2 separate regions of the Homo sapiens genome follow, and region 2 is linked to region 1. Evidence: fine-mapped expression QTL. A gene starts in region 1. The other region holds a variant in brackets. All regions are shown on one strand. Distances are between the middles of the regions.

Region 1 (4,368 bases):
TTCATTTATCCATTCCGCTATTATTTGCGCAGTGACCGCTCTGTTCCAAGCGCTGTTCCAAGTGCTGGGCAGAGCAGGGAACACAATTCTGTTCCCTGACCTTCTCTGTTCATAATCCAGTGGTCAAGACAGGAAAAAAAAACAAGGACTCACACTCATAAATGTTCACGTACAAACTGGTGGGTCCATGCAAGGGTGTAGTAAATCTGGAAGGCCTCCTTGAGGAGGTGACCCTTTCTGAAGGATGAGGAATCAGCTGAGGAGCGCCTTCGAGACCAAGCCCAAGGTGGCAGGGTCTTGGCATTTTGCAGGAACAAAAACGCCAGTGGGACGCTAGGGAGGGTTGTAAGGTGGGAGGGGAGATCCAGGGACGGACAGGGGCCCACCAAAGACTTGGTCGGCAGCTTCGGGGATTGGGAATTTATTATAACGGTAGGAGGGAAGATGCTAGACAGTTTTGGGCAAGGTTACCCAATCTGATCCCATTTCAGTTTGCTGCAGATTCCGCTGGCTATCATATGGGGAGTGGATTTCTTTTTTTTTTTTGAGACAGGGTCTTGTTCCGTTACCCAGGGTGGAGTGCAGTGGCGCGATCTTGTTCACTGCAGCCGCGACTGCTTAGGCTCAAGTGATCTCCCACCTCAGCCTCCCAAGTAGACTACAGGCACACGCCACCACGCCCAGCTAATTTTTGTATTTTTGGGGGGCACAGATGGAGGTCTCAACATGTTGCCCAGACTGGTCTCGAACTCCTGAGCTCAAGCAATCCCCCTGCCTCGGCCTCCCAAAGTACTTGGATTACAGGTGAGGCACTGTGTCTGTCCTTGGAGTGGATTTTGTAGGGGCAAGTGAGGAGCATACAGATGGAGGGTGGGGTGTACTATTCAGGCAAGAAAAGAGGGTAGGGGAGGAAAAAGTGGAAACCATGCAGGGCTGATGGGGTGTGGGGCAGGAGCTGTCAGCTGGGGTAGGCAGGTGGCCTCAGAATCCCTCTAGGCCTCTGCTTGTGAATAAATCCTCCCCAGCTTCTCCTGTCTTCCAGGGGAGCAAGGTCTCCCCTGGGTTCACACGCTGGACCCCACCAGGTCAGCTGGGCCCTCAGCTGAGACAGGGAGAAGGTGACAGCTGGCTGGGGGAACCCTGCAAATCAGCCCTATGTGAGCAGGTGTTCATTGCCCATGCCAAGACCAGGGACAGCTTGAGGGCATGAGAGAGAGTGCTGGTGGGACAGACACACAAAGGCCCTTTGTTGCAGCCAGGGCAGCTTCCTGGAGGGATGCCTTAGAGGCTGACTGCTCCCTGAAGGGGCTGGAGTAGGTGCATCCCAACACAGAACTGGTGGCCCCAGCACGAGGAAAAACCACTGTGTGCCAGGGTTGAATGTGGCTTCCGAAGCCCGAACTATAAGGAAGCAGCCAGAGAGGTGGGGCACCTGGGCGAGCCTCTGCCCAGGCCATGTTTGCAGTAAGTCATGGCAAATCGTGAATTGAGAGGTGGTTCTCAAAACAGCCCTAGTGACCACTTCCCTGACCACCACCCCCACCCACCAAATGCCAGTGACTGCACAGATGGGCCCTCTTTCTCCTACCCCAAGTCTCCTCACTGCAGGGGAACCCCTGGGGTGAGCCTGTGAGGTCTGCCCCTCCCCCAGCATGTATAGAACAGCTCACAATAATTACGCATTTAACACACATTTCCTCCTCTATGAGTTGGGGACATTAAGAGACCTTTCCTCCAGCATTAGGATTAAGTCAGACAAAGCACTTAAAGCTGTAAGCACTGAGTCCTTGGTTCTGCACAGAAATCCCCAGGCCAGTTCAAAGTTGTTGGGCGCACCCTGGCAGGGCAATTACCTCACAGGGTAGGGGAATCCAGAGAGGTGGGCAGGACAGGTGGCGCTTTGATTAGCCCTGCCTTCTCCTCCCTCCTCCTGTGGCCAGAGGCAGGCAGGAGGGCCCCAGGCAGCAGTCCCGCCTACCCTTCGCCCCTTCTTCAGTCTTGCACGCCTCCAGGGCTGGAAAGCTCATTCTTCTTCTTCCTCCCAGCAGCTCTGCCTGGAAGTCCCCCAATCCCTGTGCTCCTGCCCCCAGATCGTGGGCTTGGGGGACAGCAAGAAAGCTGCAAAGGACTCAGCTGGGGCGGCTCCACAAGGACCCCACAGGCTTGAGGTGTTGCCAGGATTCTATCCCAGGGGGTTTTCTGGGTCCCCCAGAGCCCTCTCAAGCACGGGGAGGCAGAAGGGTCCTCGCCCATTTCAGGAATCTGCAGCCTGGAAGCCACAGCCATGGCAGGCCCCCGATACCCAGTTTCAGTGCAAGGGGCAGCCCTGGTGCAGATCAAGAGGCTCCAAGTAAGACCTGGCTGGGTCCTTAGTGGCCCCAAGGGATAGGAAGGGGGTGCCTGGACCAGCACCTCCACGGCACTCCCAACTTTTTGTCCCCCAGACGTTTGCCTTCTCTGTGCGCTGGTCAGACGGCAGCGACACCTTCGTGCGCAGGAGTTGGGACGAATTCAGGCAGCTCAAGGTGAGTGACCCTGGGCCACCCTGATGCCGCGGTGGCGGCTTCCCCACGCGGCTGCCTCCCACTGGACTGCCTCCCATCAGTGACTCCCACTGGAGGCCCTTCGTCCCTGCTGAAGCTCCCAGCCCCTGCCATCCGGGTGAGGGACCCCGCCCTCTCAAGGGTGCACAGTGGGCTCTGGAAGACCAATGCCCTGGTTCCCGCCCTCAGAAGACCCTCAAGGAGACCTTCCCGGTGGAGGCGGGCCTGCTGCGGAGATCTGACCGCGTTCTCCCAAAGCTTCTCGGTCAGGCCAGCCTGGGTACGGGAGCGGGGAAGGCGGTGGCTTGCCTGGGGGCGCCAGGGACCAGTGAAGCCCAAAGCGGCGTATCACAGTACGTTTTTGTGGTGCCTTAAGATGCACCACTGTTGGGACGCGTGGGGCGCACGAGCCGCGGCCTGGCGCGCCTGCAGCTGTTGGAAACCTATTCTCGGAGGCTGCTGGCGACTGCAGAGCGCGTGGCACGGAGCCCGACGATCACTGGCTTCTTCGCACCGCAACCCCTGGACCTGGAGCCCGCGCTGCCACCCGGCAGGTGCCTGACTCGCCCCAAACTCCCAGCATGCAGCGGCGTTTGGAGCTGGGAGAGGTCCAGGGTGGGGGGGAACAGCCAGCGAATAGGGGCAGAGAGTGGGAGGCTGGCGGTCTTGCCGGGGTGGCGCCCCCAGTTTCACCCTCCCCATCCGCCTACCTCTCACTCGTACGGGCTGCCCTTCCCAGCCGGGTGATCCTGCCCACCCCAGAGGAGCAGCCTCTTTCTCGCGCTGCGGGCCGCCTCTCCATCCACAGTCTGGAGGCTCAGAGCCTGCGCTGCCTGCAGCCCTTCTGTACCCAGGACACGCGGGATAGGCCTTTTCAGGCGCAGGCCCAGGAGAGCCTGGACGTGCTGCTGCGGCACCCCTCAGGTAGGGCCCCCCAAGAACCCAGGGATTTGCTCCTCTGCTCCTGGACCCGAGGGAGCCTCGAGATTTGAGTCCCTGCCCGCTTCTTGCGCACAGGCTGGTGGCTGGTGGAGAACGAAGACCGGCAGACCGCCTGGTTTCCAGCGCCCTACCTGGAGGAGGCGGCCCCGGGCCAAGGCCGGGAGGGAGGCCCGTCCCTAGGGAGCAGCGGTATGCGCCTAACCCCACCCCTCACGCCACCACTGCGGCTTGACCGTGTGGCAAGACTGGGCCAGAAGCACCGCGGGCAGGGCGGGCCAGGAGCCCGTGCTTGGTCTCCGCACCTAGAGGAAGCCCCGAACCGGTCTTAGAGCGGCCCCGCCGTCAGCAGACTCAAGCAAGGAGAATGTGGAGAAGGGTGCGGGCGGGCCTCGTCCTCTGTGGCCCCGCGGTGACTCCAAACACCCACTCCCACCAGGTCCCCAGTTCTGTGCTTCCCGCGCCTACGAGAGCAGCCGCGCAGATGAGCTGTCCGTGCCCGCGGGGGCGCGCGTGCGCGTGTTGGAAACGTCAGACCGCGGCTGGTGGCTATGCAGGTACGCGGGAGCGGGCGTGGGCAGGGCAGGCTAGCCGAGGCGGGCGGGGCCCTAACCACACCCCGCCCCTCGCAGGTACGGCGACCGGGCGGGCCTACTCCCCGCGGTGCTGCTGCGGCCGGAAGGGCTGGGCGCTCTCCTGAGCGGGACGGGGTTCCGTGGAGGAGACGACCCGGCGGGTGAGGCCCGGGGCTTCCCTGAACCCTCCCAGGCCACCGCCCCTCCCCCCACCGTGCCCACCCGACCTTCGCCGGGCGCCATCCAGAGCCGCTGCTGCACCGTCACACGCAGGGCCCTGGAGCGGCGCCCACGGCGCCAGGGCCGCCCTC
Region 2 (4,368 bases), 21 kb before region 1:
TCCTGGCGCTCCTGACCCTCCTGGGGAGTCAGATTTAACCACCTGCTCTGGGGGACAGAGACACCCCAGGACCCCCTGAGCACGTGTGGGACTGGCTCTTCCTGCCAAGCCTCAGGTTTCCCAGCTTCACGGCCGTTCCAGCCCGACATTCTCTTTGGCTAAGGGGCTAAGGTAAACTTAACATGACCTTGGCATGACCCTTGCCCGGGTGAGGACGTCCCCCTGCCCTGGATGTGCGCTTGAGGCCTTGAGCTGCTCTAAGGGCCCAGAGCCGAGGCGAGTGACCAGTGCCAGGCTTGGGACAGTGATGGAGCCAGAAGGGGGCTTGACCAACCCAAGGGGTGGGTGGCACCAATCTCTGCTGGCATGGGGGCAGCGAGGGTCCTCCCCAGCAGAGCTTCGTGGAGAGCAGGGGTGCTGAGCTGAGCAGGGATGCCGGGGCCGTCTGTGGAGGGCACAGGGCAGACGGGCAAGTCCTCTGGCAGCCAGCTTTGCAGGTGCCAGAGACCCCTGGGAAGGGGCCCACGCAGAGGCTCTGCAGCGCCTGCTGAGGATGCACGGAGCTGAGGTGGTCGGCTTGAGCCTCGTGCCGTGAAGGCGCCATGGAAACGTGGGGGCGGGGGCGCCGGACAGGGTAGCCGGGCCTTGTCACCTGATGCATCCCCGGCTGGCGGCCATTGGTATTCCCTTAGCAGCTGCTTGGAACACGTTTCTTCTCTGTCCTGGAAAGCTCCGCAGAGCGACAGCTGCTCTGTTCCCCGCAGGGTGGAGCCACCGGGTGAGGGCCCCGGCCGGTGGGGCGTGGCTGCTTAGGGACTGGCCTTGCCGCCCCCTGGTGGAGAGGCCTGGCGTTGTGTCTCTGTCCTCTGCCCCTGACCCTAGGCAAGCGGGTTGGGGTGAGGAGGGGAGGCCTAGGCCAGGGTGCCAGGGGCCGCTGCCTGCTGGGGCCTCCTAGGAGGACCCTTTATGCCTCACTCCTTCTTAGAGGGTCTGTGAGGGCTCCCTTGCCTCTGAGCCTCCGTTGCATCCCAGGTGGGGGTCCCATCCCAGTCCTGCTCACCACCCCTCTGGTTTTTGGCTCTAGGTGGTCTTTGGGAAGAAGCTTCCTGCCTTTGCCACCATCCCCATCCACCAGCTGCAGCATGAGAAGAAATATGATATCTACTTTGCAGATGGAAAGGTGTACGCATTGTACAGGTGAGCAGGGCCTCTCCCTGGGTCCTGGCCTCCCTGTGGTTGTGGCCCTTCACGTCCCACTCTCCTCACAACCGGAGGCACTTCGGGGGCCACCTGGTGCACCAATGCTGGGGCCAGGCACCTGGGTTTCCATCCTGTGACTGGGGAGGCTTACCAGGCCCTCCTGGGGGTAGAGCTGGTGGTTGTGCTGGGGAAAGGCATGCCCAGGTGGTGCAGCACCTGCCTCGGGGGCACCTTGAGGGGCACACGAGGTGTGTGAGCCAGGCCCGTGGCCTGAAAATCCTATAAAGGGTACAGCTGTCCCAGGGCTGGTCTCTCAGAGGAGGGGCAGCTCATGGGCTCAGGGCTAGAGCCAGGCTTCTGACCCAGGCCATGTGCACAGCCATGGCCTTGCATCTGTCCTGGGTCACGGGCCTGGGGCCTGGTGAGTGGCCCTGCTCCCGGCGGTGACACTGAATGTCCTGGGGCCGTGGGCGGCTCTCGGTGTCTTCCTAGGCAGCTGCTGCAGCACGAGTGCCCGCGGTGCCCCGAGCTGCCACCTTTCAGCCTCTTCGGGGACCTGGAGCAGCACATGCGGAGGCAGCATGAGCTCTTCTGCTGCCGTCTGTGCCTCCAGCACCTCCAGGTGTGCCCCCCCAGCGACCCCGGAGAGAGCCTAGGCGGTGGGTGGTGCAAGGGATGTGGCCACACGGCTGGGAGGGGCTTGTCCACCTGCTGCTTCTGGCCCCGGATGGCCCCCTGAGGGTCAGGCTGCACGTGGCAGGGAGGCCTCTGGCTGCTGGCGGGGCCCTCTCCCGCCCCTTGCTGCTC[C/T]GCCACTGGCCTGTGGGAAGAGGCAGGAGGCTTGGGGTCCCCCAGCCTGTGCCCAGCCTCCTGTGCCTTGTAGATCTTCACATATGAGCGCAAGTGGTACTCGCGCAAGGACCTGGCCCGGCATCGCATGCAGGGTGACCCCGATGACACGTCGCACCGTGGGCACCCGCTCTGCAAGTTCTGTGACGAGCGCTACCTGGACAATGATGAGCTGCTTAAGCACCTGCGCCGCGACCACTACTTCTGCCACTTCTGCGACTCGGACGGGGCCCAGGACTACTACAGGTGGGCCGGGCAGCAGACAGACAGATGACCCTCCCTCCCCGAGGGCGTGGGGCTAACCGGGCTGCAGCCCTCCTACCGACACCCCATCTCCTGCCAGCGACTATGCCTACCTGCGTGAGCACTTCCGGGAGAAGCACTTTCTGTGTGAGGAAGGCCGCTGCAGCACGGAGCAGTTCACCCACGCCTTCCGCACCGAGATCGACCTCAAGGCCCACAGGACGGCCTGCCACAGTCGCAGCCGCGCCGAGGCACGCCAGAACCGCCACATCGACCTGCAGTTCAGCTACGCGCCACGGCACTCGCGCCGGAACGAGGGTGAGCAGGCACCTGGCCTGGATGCCCCCAGGTGGGGCCGCATGACCATGCCCTGCTCTGGAGCCTGAGATGAGACCGAGCTGTGGGTGCAGGAGCTGACCTCCCACCCTCCGGCCAGGCTGGAGCGCCCGAGCACCCCTTGTGTGCCAGGAGCTCTTGCTCCCTCAGGGTCTCGGGTCTGCTGCCCTGGGTGCCCGGGGCCCTTCCCTGGACCAGGAGGCTTTTACTGAGCATCTGCTGTATGCAGATCCCACCTGGGGCTCGGGGACCCTCCTCCTCTCCCTTCCCACTGCTCCTGTGGCTTGGCACCCAGGTCGTAGAGGCCCGTGGCTGGCGTGGACCCTGCGAGGCTCCTGTGCCACTCCCGGGCTCATGTGCACTGTGGGTAGGAAAGCCTCTGCCATCCAGGCCTGAGCATTGGCCGGGTGTGGCCTTGACGGCAGGCCTGTTCCTCCTATTGTCGTCCCGGGGTCCCGGGAAGTGACGGGCTGTCTGCTGGCCGCAGGGGTCGTTGGTGGCGAAGACTACGAGGAGGTGGACAGGTACAGCCGCCAGGGCCGAGTGGCCCGGGCTGGCACTCGCGGAGCCCAGCAGAGCCGCCGAGGAAGCTGGAGGTACAAAAGGTGGGGGACCTTGCGTGCCGCTGACATTCTCCTGTGGTGACCGTGGCCAGTGGCCAAGCTGGGAGTGGGGATGGGGTCAGGGATTGTGGCCAGAGTTCCTGGGGTCCTGAGTGGCAGTAGGGTCTGTTGAGGGTCCTTGGTGGGCACAAGTTTCTCTCTCTTTTCTCCAGTTCTAGCCACAGCCACAGATCCCAGGGTTGGGGTGGGTGAAAGGGGCCTGTGTCAATTGGGCGGTCACCGCAGCTGTACGAGGAAGCACCGCCCCGGCAGCCCTGCAGGGCAGAGGCATCAGACCCCAGATGATCGCCCCACACACTGGGCCCAGGCACTGCCCGCCTGAGGCATTGGTCTCGGGCCATGCTCAGCCTGAAGGCTGGCCTCCTTGTCCCAGGGAAGAAGAGGACCGAGAAGTAGCAGCTGCTGTCCGGGCCTCCGTGGCCGCACAGCAGCAGGAGGAGGCTCGCAGGAGTGAGGATCAGGAGGAAGGCGGTAGGCCCAAGAAGGAGGAGGCAGCGGCGCGGGGACCTGAGGATCCCCGTGGCCCCCGGCGCTCACCCCGGACTCAGGGCGAAGGCCCAGGTGAGTAAGCCCTACCTGGTGGCAGCTCTGCCCGGGCTAGGAGGTCAGTGGCTAGCTCTTTTTTTTTGTTTGTTTGTTTGTTTGTTTGTTTTTTGTGAGACAGACAGAGTCTCACTCTGTTGCCCAGGCTGGTGCAGTGGCGGAATCTTGGCTCAGTGCAACTTCTGCCTCCCGGGTTCAAGTGATTCTCCTGCCTCAGCCTCCCGAGTAGCTGGGATGACAGGTGCCTGCCCCCACGCCTGGCTTGTTTTTCTATTTTTAGTAGAGATGGGGTTTCACCATGTTGGCCAGGCTGGTCTCAAACTCCTGACCTCAGGTGATCCGCCCACCTCAGCCTCCCAGAGTGCTGGGATTATAGGTGTAAGCCACGATGTCCAGCTTAGTGGCCAGCTCTTGATGGGCACGGTGCCTGGGACGCTCCAGGCCTTCACCTGGGAGGTTGAAGAGCACCCTGCACTGCCAGTCCCCAGAGGGCCTGTCCCCACACCCTGACCTGACCTGGGGGCCTTGTGTTCTTCATAGGCCCCAAGGAAACCTCGACAAATGGTCCTGTAAGCCA

Evidence for each region. PIP is the estimated chance that this variant, and not a neighbour inherited with it, causes the effect. A credible set is the group of variants that fine-mapping cannot tell apart.
Region 2: its variant is the best candidate, but not a certain one, in a credible set for the expression of NOXO1 in whole blood (TOPMed, PIP 0.54).

What each region holds. Positions count from the first base shown.
Region 1 is chr16:1,979,096-1,983,463 of GRCh38, reverse strand. NOXO1 (NADPH oxidase organizer 1) reads left to right here and starts at 1,995. Exons shown (of 8, transcript NM_172167.3): 1 at 1,995-2,350; 2 at 2,445-2,525; 3 at 2,733-2,808; 4 at 2,920-3,097; 5 at 3,283-3,467; 6 at 3,561-3,674; 7 at 3,922-4,039; 8 at 4,115-4,368. The coding sequence starts at 2,285. It overlaps TBL3 (transducin beta like 3), which reads right to left. Exons shown (of 22, transcript NM_006453.3): 22 at 535-4,368. RefSeq lists silencers at 540-732, 2,942-3,236, 4,029-4,148 and enhancers at 2,019-2,078, 2,555-3,134, 3,135-3,712, 3,713-4,292, 4,293-4,368.
Region 2 is chr16:2,000,445-2,004,812 of GRCh38, reverse strand. ZNF598 (zinc finger protein 598, E3 ubiquitin ligase) reads left to right here. Exons shown (of 14, transcript NM_178167.5): 4 at 1,085-1,197; 5 at 1,693-1,822; 6 at 2,081-2,292; 7 at 2,390-2,607; 8 at 3,113-3,230; 9 at 3,622-3,809; 10 at 4,332-4,368. Among named protein-coding and RNA genes, the nearest start is that of ZNF598, 7.2 kb to the left of the region's middle. RefSeq lists a silencer at 703-772. The variant C/T (reference allele first, on the strand shown) is at 2,008.